Regions from separate parts of the Homo sapiens genome. Here region 2 is linked to region 1. The links come from fine-mapping of genetic effects on gene expression. A gene starts in region 1. The other region holds a variant in brackets. All regions are shown on one strand. Distances are between the middles of the regions.

Region 1 (5,385 bases):
TATGTGTCAACAGAGGTAGCAGTTAGAAGTGGTGAGATGTATTTACTTATTTTTATAACACAGTTGATGCAGACCTGTTGCTCTAACAATATGAACAGTGTCTGTGAATGAAGGTAAAATAGTATAAGATATTGCAGAGTCCAGCTGAAGAGGTTTGGAAGAAAGGCAAGGTGAGGGCTGGGGAGCCTTTCAACACATACTCCTATTTCTCTAAGCCTCTTAGGGAAATGGTTTGGATCTACCACTTTTCTCATACTCTTAACTATTTGACCCCTATAGCTTCTTCAAGCCTATTCTTTACCCTACCTCTCCAATATACTTTCTAATTTTTGCTTATCCTATTTGTGATACTTGATTTGATTCTAAAATGACTTACTATGTACAAGTAAATACTTTTTCTTATGACATTCATCACATGCCATGATGACTATTCTGTCTTTCAACCCAACTAGGCTGTAGGCTCCTCAAAGATATAAACTTAACCTTAAAAATATCTATATCCATAATATCTAGCACAGTTCTTGATGCATAGAAGTCCTTGAGACTCACCTGCCAGGGATAGGAACCCTTCTCCACTTGGCTTCCTCCAAGAATGCGACTGAAAATGTTAAAATAATTCCAAGGCTGTACCTTAACCAGACTCTGCCCACAACTGGGAGCTGAGAAAAAAACGAGACAAACTAAATGATTAGATAGCTTCTAGGATTGAGGTAATATCTTCTCCATTTCACCCATGAAACTGAGTCTGAGACTATGGTGTATGGTGCTCAGCACACATTCAGATATCAATAAATCTTTATTGGATTTAATTCTCTTGAGGGATGAAAAGTGACAGGTCATTTAAGGAGAGTGGAGTGAAGTGTCCTGATTCACAAGTTGGTACTCGGATAGAGGTTTGCTAGGTAATAGAAGAAAAAACTCCTCCCTCTTTATGTAAAATACTTTATCCCTGAAAAAGTTGTTTTTATTTATTTGCCCTCAATGGGTTTTCTGACTCCTCAGCAAAGAGGTAGACTAGATTAAAGATGTTTAACATCACCTGGTAACTCAAGGATGGCACATCTTCTGTCCCTCCTGGAGGTCATCCTTTTCCATATTTTGAAGGAGGATTAGAACTAGCCTTGCTTCATAATCACCATGCTTCATTGCCTACCTAAATTCTGTAATTCTTATTCCTCAGCTTGGAGATCACCTCAACCAGGAAGTCTTCCTTGATTTCCTCAAAGTGGGATTGCCTCTCCCTTGTGTTGTGTAGCACGCTTTCTTCACCCCTTTTATAGTTCTTGTCATGCAGAATTGTGATAATGAATTATTTGCCTCTATCATCGGACTATGAACTACTCAAGGGAAAAAACTTGCCTTATTCACCTCTGCATTTCTAAGGTTTAGCTTAATTCTTGGCATAAGTAAGCACTTAGAAACACTGGATGGACAAACAAATGACTTTTCTTGAGAACACATCCTTAAGAGTATAGCTATTTAGATCAACATGTTAAAATATTCAAAGCTCTTTCATACAGCTTCTCATTTAATCCCACTCTATGCCTATAAATGAAGCACTGTTATCCCCACATTGCAGATGAGAAAACTGAGAATCAAGGAGACACACAGCTGGATAATGGCAGAGCATGAATGTAACAGTAAGTGTTTTGATCCTGAACCCAGTGCCAGGATGACATTGGAACAAAAGCTTATTTTCTAACTGTTTCAGTTGAATGAGTCATAAATACTTTAAATACAAAATTTACTATTTCCCAAATTCAGTAAAGCAAAGTCAGAAAACATGTTGATTCTCAGGGTTGGCACAAGTCTGACCAAGGAGAAATCTTCCAAGAACTGTTTTCAGCTTAAGTTAGTTGAAGGGGAAAAAAGACCATTTATAATATACTACAGTGAACATGCTTCATATTTCTCAGCAAGATGATTTTGTAAAAGATTAAAAATGCTTCCAAATCCATGCTGATTTCCAGAATTTGCTCTATGAACCAAGATGGGATTATGTAATGGGTTCAAGTAAGTGAACAATCTCAGTTCACTTAGGAAAACTAAGCGAAGAAAACAGGGATTGTTTACTTAATTGGATACATTAGTTGCATTCTATAAATGTTTCACCCTGTGTCCTATGCCGATTGCAGGAGATAAGTCCAAAATAATTGTTTAAAAACAATTAGATATCCAAAATATATTTGCTTCTCCTATTTTCCCAAAGGAACATGGAGTCTCGGAGTTGTGACGTCCATTGCCAGCAAAGGTTCAGACAAAGGTAATTATAGAGTTCATTTGAAACTTACCTTTGGGGAGCGAAAGAGTTGCAGATTTACCTCGTTCAAAAAAGACTATTCCTAGTAGTAAAATCAGCTTGTTCCTGCTTATAAGCATTTTGAGACTCATAGTTTTTCCCTGAAATTTTAGAGAGACTAAAGCAAACAAAAATAGGAAGCCTTGAGAGACCAGCAATAAGCCAATTTAAAACAAGTTTATTCATTAACCAAGACGTGGTGAATCAAGCATGTCCATCTGATGTTTCTGAATGTAGTGTTTCGCAAAGATCTTTTGGAAGATGTGGAGAAACAACCACAGAAGCAGAGTCTTGATCAAGCAATATTACATATCCTATTACACCTACACCAATTAGTTGATTCCTCCAGAGTGTATCTGGCTAGCAAAGTGGTTAGCATGTAAGATTTGCATCTGCAAACATTACTTGCTCCTTTGTAGAGCTTACCACTTTTACCACTTTCTATAAGAAGATTGACTATCAATGTTGTCCTTGTTTGCAAGGGTACACTTCCCTACTTTTTTGCAAACGACCCATCCAAATGTATATAATTTTTTTGGGCAGAGATGGAGTTTCATCATGTTGCCCAGGCTGATCTCAAACTCCTGGGCTCAAGGGATCTGCCTGCCTTGCCCTCCCAAAGGTCTGGGATTACAAGTGTGAGCCACCACGCCCAGCCAATATTCTAAAATATTTTTATTTATCTTATTTTGCAAATGTAACTACATGGTTATTATAAACATATGTTGGTGAATGAGAGAAGTGGAAAGATATTTGGGTGTCACACTCAGGAAGCCCTGCTGTTAGAAAGTCATCTAGGATACTGTACATTGGGGCATTTGTGACTCTGCATTCTCCTATCATTTTTGTATTTATAGAAGGGAAACACTAAATCTCCTTTACTTCTATGCCTGGTAGATGCTTGGGAGAGTAAAGTGGCTATGATTACCTGTACATTTTCCTCTTTCCTCAACGAGTTTTGGGCACATGGTCAGTGTGTGAGAAATATTTATAGGATGGTCAATGCCATCTATGACCAGATAGAAATATAACATTTTTCTGTCAACTTTTATAAGTTACCCACTAAAAATAACAAATGTCAGCCCAAAAGCTCTTAATTTCCTTTTGGCAACTTTTGTCTTTGTACAAAAAAGTATGAAAATACAACACATACAAATAATATAAATGCAAAACAGAGAAGGTGTAAAAACTTAACATTTGTAAGCACTACATATTTAGGTACACTAATCAAGAATGTAGCCTTATGGAAAGAAGGAAACTCAAACCTCTATTGAGGCTTTATCTATAACTACTGTAATCCTGATGCCAAACATTTTTGGCTATTGGTATGGAGTGATAGCCCCAAGAGGTAATCAATCAATGTCTAAGCCCTAATCAAAGTCTCAATCTTTCTTTGACAGCAAGCTCCCTTTAAATTGCTATTGTGTTTTATCAATCACTTTTGAGAGCAACTTGACTAGGAATATGGCCTTTCTGACCCCAAATTCACTACATTCTGTCTAAAATGTGTATACTGTTAATGTCAAAAGTGCAGAAAGACCTAGTGTGGGCCTAGGATGCACTAAACTTGACAAGCCTAAAGTAGGCACATAGCATAGGACAATAAAATTTGACTCTATACTGAAAGAATGATGAGTTTTCCTTTGTAAAATGTGGGAGTGGAGCGTTTTTATTGATTGTCACACAGAAATATGATGAGCTCTTGCTTAGTGCTTAATTTCAGGAGAGGGTATTTGCTTCAAGCTCTTGCATCAGCACAACTATCAGTACACATCAACACACTCTTCACCACATGAAGCTGGTCATTAAGAGTTTGTTACTTTCATCTCTTAAGGGGCTAAAATGTGGCCCCCTTGCTGTTAAAATATTTGCTCTTCATGGGGGATGTAGCAGGTTCTAAGACACTATATTTTTGTAAGTCCAGCTATTCAACCCTCCCAGGGTCTGGATAGGAATTATAATAACTGTACATTGTAGTTACTTGCAGACAGGAATATATTAAAGTGTTGCTTGGCATGGTAGTATAAAATCAATTTTTCATTCATGAAACTATTAAACCTTTTAAAGGGGAAAAAATCTCTCTTGAGAATCTTGGACCAAAGTCTGCACCAAACATGGATTTGGAATTCAAATACATTGTTTTCCCTGTCTGTAAATCCCCAAGTTGAGAAATTAGTATCAAAATTTCTCCTGAAAGCAAAACTGTCTCTCTTCACAGATGATATGATTCTATACCTAGAAAATCTCAGGTCTACCTGTTATAACCTTCTTCTCTCTTTTTTGCAGCAATTATTTTTGTTGAAAGAATTGGTTATTTAGACCTTTAGCATTTTCTACATTCTGTATTTTGCTGATTGCAGAGCTGTGACTTTAATGTGTTCCTATAACCCTGTGATATAATCCATAGCTAATGATTATAACTTCTGTATTGTACCCTCCAATGAAAAGAGAACAACTCCAGTATGAGCAATCTCTCTCTGTCTTTTCAGATTTTTCTGTCAAAACCTTTCACCTTCTGACAGACCTCAGAACACTCCAACTTTGTTGCTGTGTCTTCCTGGGTCAATCCACACATTTGAGGTTCAATAAACCTTTATAGATTTTTTTCTGTCTTGACAGCCTCAATTTTGGTCAACAGTGCCATAAACACTCATCACCAGGAATGTTCTCAGCCACCTCCAGTGGCCCAGAGAAAGTAACAGAATGTACTGTCTGGTAGAGAGTCCCAGGAGTTGGGTTTCTGGACCTGTCTGCTTCTCATTCTCCCTGAAGTTTCCAGCCACCTGGAATTGCCCTGCCCCATGGGCCCAAATACCCCCTCACATCTCCCTCCCAGGGGAAAACACCAACTGGTTCTTACTTGGAATAAATTGGAGTGGGTCTACTCCAGAACTTTTTCAGCAGTTTTCTCCTAACAGGCATGTTAGGTTGTGGTTCTTTCCTTAATTGAATTCCATCTACTTTTTATCGTTCTAGAAATATTCATAATTTGGGGCCACTAAAAGTAGCTTTCCTTGTTCAGGTTTTCCAGCACTGCTATGAGTTCATTTGTTTAATACATCCTTCTTATCATAAATTTGGAGCAG
Region 2 (5,385 bases), 200 kb after region 1:
GGTTGAGGTCTGGACTGGGAATGCCCTTATTGTTTGTGGGGCCTGGGTCCAGGCCCCCATCTCGTTTCCCAGCAGGGGGGTGCCATTCTGATGAAATTTTGAGTGGCACTGATTAGCCCAGTGATTTCCTTTCATACAGTGAGGACAGAATCCTGGTGTTTATTCTGCTGGGTGGGGCACTGCATTGTAAGGTCCTTTCTGTCCTGAGATCTGGCAGCATTCCTTTTTAAAATGTCCAGTTTTTCCACATTTATAATATTTTCCCGTTTTGGGGTTTGACCCTTGGCTCCTTTTAGATTTGTCAACTGATAAATTAGCTATTGCTTGTGCTAACATTGCAGAGTGATGAAGCTCAGTTCCTACATCTTGACAAGCTCTGAGAAAATTTCCCAAGTTTTTTGTACACCTCACCAGTGCCAGTGCACATTTACAATCCGTGTTTGCATCCTCAAAAGCTAGTGTTAAGGTTAGCATTTCTGCAGCCGCAGTATGAGAAATCTGACACTTCACTGCCTCTTGTAATCATGCAAGAAATTGCACATAGGGTTCCTGCAACCCTTGTATGATACATAAAAAGGATTGTACTGGGACTCCTTCAGGAATAGTGGCCCAGGTGCATTTAGTGGCCTGTGCACACTGCTGATAAGCAACATCTGGGAGTCCCATTTGAGGTTCCAGGTCTGAATAAGGGCCATTACCTAATAGCATATCCTCTGTAATGTCTCCATTTCCAGCAGCACAGTTCTGTCTAGCCTGGTCTGCACACATTTCTTGCCAATTTAAATTCCATGTCAGATATGCAGTAGCCGACAAGCAAATTCACGCCAAGTGTTTCACATCAAATGGTAAAAGACGCATAGCACCAAACACAGATTCTAGCAATCCTAAGGTGAATGGGTTCTGTACGCCATTGTTTACCACACTCGCTTTTAATTCCTTTAACAAGTTAAAATCTAGTGGAGTGTGTTCATGAATAACCTGCTGTGCATTGTTAGGATTAGGCCTTATGGAAATAGGAAAAGCGTGAGGTCCTAAGGGCTCTCCAGCTATTGCAGCAGAGCATAAAATTCTTTGTATTGGAGTCTCTATTTCTGCCACCAAAGGAGGCGGTACAAATGTTTCTGCAACTGGAGGAGGCAGTATAGGCCAACTTTTATCCTCCCTCTCCTGTTTTTTATTTTCAGTTGGAGCTGTGGGTGGGACAACAGATTCTTTTAGATTTTTAGATTCAGCCTGCTGTCCCGCAGAATAATGAGATAATAGCAGAAGTACAGTACAAACTAAACTCCAAGTGGAGAAAACAGAAGAATCAACTTCAAGACCTTTTTGATGAGCCTGTTTTAATCCTTCTCCTGCTCTATCCCAGTTTTCCACATCAAGAGTGCCTGCCTGTGGAAACCATGAGTTATGCATAATAACTTTGTGTGGCTTCTGCAGGAGGTTAGTGTCTGAGAATTAACCTGAGCTCCAGACTGTCTCAACAGAACTTTAAGCAACTGCACATAATGTTTTTCTTCAACAGACAAGTTATTCCCCCTGCTACCCTGATTCAGAAAGCTTCCCATTCCCAGCACTTCTATAAAGCACTGCTCCCAGTACCTCTTTAGAGCACTGACCTTATATATGCTGCCGGCAGACTCATCCTGGGGTCCCCGTTTGCCTTGTCAATTTCAGCTTCTCTGCTCCAGCAGATCTTTTTTGTTCACATCGTCGAAGTCCCGTGTTCAGACGCCACTTGTTGGCATCCTTGGCGTCCCTGTTCTGAGTCACCACTTGTTGAGAACCCAATTGTGTCACTGTTTGGGGCACCACTATGTAACCTGCATGGACCTAGGGGGACTGAACAAAGGGGGCAAACACGGGAATAAAAGACAAGAGGCAAAAGAGTATATTTGGAAGAAGGGGTCGGAGGGCACCTTGTCTCTAGTGGACAAGGGCCCTGAGCTTTACACTGCCCTCCATATTTATTAGGCAATAGAGATAGTGAGAAGGTGGGGAGTGGTTGTTGGCCAGCAGCTTGATTCGCAGCAGGCTTGCAAGACTGCATTCTTAGGTGCTAGACTTCTCAATAGATAACTTCAAGGAGCCCAGCGCCAGGGAGTGAGGCCCTCAACAAACCTTTTGGTGGCAGGGCAGTGTGAGTTTGCCCACATCCTGCATTCATGATAAACAGTTTGCTGTTTGATCCTATAGCCTCCAGCGAAATGCTGAGTTGGTCACTTCCCAGGGGCCTTCAGCTCCCTGCACCTCACATTCTGTATTTGTCCTGATTAGCCAGCAACTTAGAACTTTTTAAAAGAGGCAAAGGCAGAGGAGAACAAAGGAGGAAGTAACTTGTGGAATGCTGAGAAAGGTAAAAACACCTCCAAATAAGGAAGAGGAACAGACTATGACTTAATACTTGCTTGGACCAGTGTAAGCATGCCAGGGCAAATATTTAGGCTAAATTGTGGGAGCTAAGAACACAAAGTACATTGATTTCTTTATTATAGCTAGCAGATATCTAAGAATGTTAGCACAGGTCTTTGAATAAATTTTGTTTCTGAGAGAAGTTACTATTTATTCCTAATTAGACGGGGAGGAAAGTCTCTTTGAAGAGGAACCTCTATTTTATTTTTACACTCAGAAGCCCGGGCAGCTCTGCCGGGAGTGCAGGGAGGCAGCTCTCCTGGGGGTGCAGGTAGGCAGCTCTGCTGGGGGTGCGGGGAGGCAGCCAGGCTTTTGTTGCACTTCCATCTACTGGCAGCACACACAGAAAGGAAATACTCCCAGTGGCTAGATTCCACCCATCATATCATTGGACTGAGTGAAAACTTTCAGAACTCTAATTTAAAAAATGAATGCATTCATGAATATTACTAACCTAACATCCAGCTGAATAATAATTAAATACATGGGGCTAGCCTGACAGAGGGTGGAAATGCTTTCTTTAACTTTTCTCTTTGAAACATTGCTGATTATTTTATGTTTTGTTTTCCAGAGTCAAGAAAATGTCTCTTTTTAGCTAATTATAGCTTACAGCAACTGGGTAACCTTTTGTGAGCAAAATTAAAACATCTGCATTTCTCCCTACCTGATTTCTCTAAAATTTGGAAACTATTCATGAGTATTTGTATTTTGTGGCAATATAGTTATTTGCATAAGATCAATAAGAATCTGTTTTCTTTTGTAACAGAACACATTGGATACACCGGTTATTTTACCAAGGCTTTGGCTGGAATGTTACATTTTTGAATGTGACCAAACTGCTTTGAGGAATTGAGGCTGACTTTATAAAGCCAATAGACATGGGAAAGACTGGCCTCATGCCTTGCCCACACGGTTCTCTTACAAGGTTCCTCAGCTTGCGGTAAGTAAAGACTGTCATTTTCTGATGCACCCAGGAACCACAAGATATTTTGGGTCATTGAGAA[G/T]ATAGGAATTCACTCAATTTTTACATATGTTACAAGCAGTCCCACAGTGAATCCCTGGCTTGGCTTACTAGTCTTTAGAGGTTTTAAAAGTGTAATCTGAGATTTCTTATTAAAAATTCTGCAAAGTCAATGGAAAAGAGCCTATATGGCCAATCATTCTTCTTGTTGCACATTTTGCAAATAATCAGGCCAAGTATAATACTAAAACTTATTTAGCCAATAAATTTGTCCTACTAACATTTATATTTGGTAGGAATGGGGAACTGGGGAGAGAAAAAAATTGTTTTAGAAGGAAACTATACCATCCTTCTTATAAGATTCTAGCCCTGACCATTGTTTTTTAGTTGTTTTTTAGTTTTTACTATTTGTCTACAATTTGGACTGAATTCTGAATAATGTCCCAGCTCTAACAATCCTCCAAAGAAGAAATTGGATTTAATTTCCTTCATGATATTTTTAGTTGACTCCCCAGTAGAATAGGTTTTGTTGTTGTTGTTCTGATATACAAATTCTTTTTTTGATTATAATTCCTATATGCATTACATATATCTCTTGTTTTACTTCTTCCACAAAGACTAAACTCATGATATTCTGAAGACTAACAATGATTCAACAAGCAACAGCAACTACATACTTGACTGAGGTGCCATTTTTGCCACCTGTGATGCCATCTCAATTTGGCTTTTGACAGTCTTAAAATTCCTCATTGTAACATTTCCTCACCTCTCCTTCCCATGTGAGACAGCACCATCATGAGCCTTCTCAAACTGAAGGAGGAAGGATATTGATCACTCTAACCTAAGCAGAAATTGATCATTAATGTTTCCATGGAAAGATTTTTGATCAACAGGTGGGAAATGAGAAAAAAAATTGCTCAGAGCCATCTAAGTTATGTGAAGCATACAAAATTTGTCAGGCCCAGAGAGACATGAGTATGGTTATGGGACCTCAATCACACCTCTCACACCCATACCCAGGGCCAACTGTTTAAAGACATTTTGTTCCTGACTAGCTGCTTTGCCCATTATCTTCATGTTCCTGGAGTTTGTGATACAAAGAACAGTGTATAACCAATCAATAGCTTATGTTATTTTAATGTAAATTCTTGGTAAACAACTTGGGAACTGCCTCTTTGTTTCCTTTAAAACCCACTTGTAACTGCTGCTCATAGGGGTGTATATTCAGGTTAACTTGCATCTACGCTCTTGCGTTGCAGTGTTCAAGCTTAGTCCAAATGAACTCTCTACTTACATTGTTTGCCTCGATTTTTTTTCTTCTTTCCGTTGACATATCAATGCAAGGGACCGGAGCAAATATTCCTAGACTGAAACAGATTAAATGCAAGAAAGAGAAGAAAACTTGAAAATATGCATTATCATTGTAGAGAGACTCAATGATTTTTAAAAGAGCATATTCTCAAAAAAAAAGAGATCAATTTTAAAACAATATAGGGGAAATCTTAAAATGGTTTTAAAAATAACTCTGTGGAGAAATGGAGTAACAAAATAGATAACACTGAATACCAAATGATGAGTTAGAAATTCACAGAATGAATTTGATTGAAATTCACGTAAAATTAATGAGAAGTAAAAATTATCATGAAAAAGATAGGAAACATGGAGAATTGATCTGATAGCTCCAATACTCATAGGAGTTTAGATTAAAAAGCAGAAGTGGGGTGGAAGCTATACCCCAAAATAAAAAAGAGCAGAAATAAAAGCAAATCTCATTTTTGCTACACTGGAACTAGAAAACAGTGAAATAATGTTTAGAGTTTCTTTCTTCTTCTTCTTTTTTTTTTTTGACAAAGTCTCCCTCTTGTCCCCTAGGCTGTAGTGCAATGGTGCGATCTCAGCTCACTGCAACCTCTGTGTCCTGGGTTCAAGTGATTCTCCTGCCTTGGCCCCCTGAGTAGCTGGGATTACAGGTGCCTGCCACCACACCCAGCTAATTTTTTTATTTTTAGTAGAGA

Direction of the effects. Alleles are on the strand shown, and positions count from the first base shown. SD is a standard deviation of normalised expression in the study named.
With allele T in place of G in region 2, the expression in aorta of the gene that starts at base 2,462 in region 1 is lower (large effect, 0.79 SD a copy in GTEx).

The links.
Region 2: its variant is fine-mapped to the expression of OVCH2 in aorta (GTEx, PIP above 0.99).

Annotation. Positions count from the first base shown.
Region 1 is chr11:7,704,016-7,709,400 of GRCh38, forward strand. OVCH2 (ovochymase 2) reads right to left here and starts at 2,462. Exons shown (of 16, transcript NM_198185.7): 1 at 2,292-2,462; 2 at 550-659. The coding sequence starts at 2,379. LOC105376533 (a long non-coding RNA gene) reads left to right here. Exons shown (of 11, transcript XR_007062576.1): 7 at 1,580-1,640; 8 at 2,210-2,263.
Region 2 is chr11:7,903,987-7,909,371 of GRCh38, forward strand. It overlaps LOC283299 (a long non-coding RNA gene), which reads right to left and starts at 1,969. Exons shown (of 8, transcript NR_036678.1): 1 at 1,617-1,969. It overlaps LOC107984307 (a long non-coding RNA gene), which reads left to right and starts at 2,336. Exons shown (of 3, transcript XR_001748116.2): 1 at 2,336-2,680; 2 at 3,176-3,349. RefSeq lists enhancers at 1,513-2,712, 1,514-2,057, 2,058-2,601, 3,690-4,233. The variant G/T (reference allele first, on the strand shown) is at 3,414.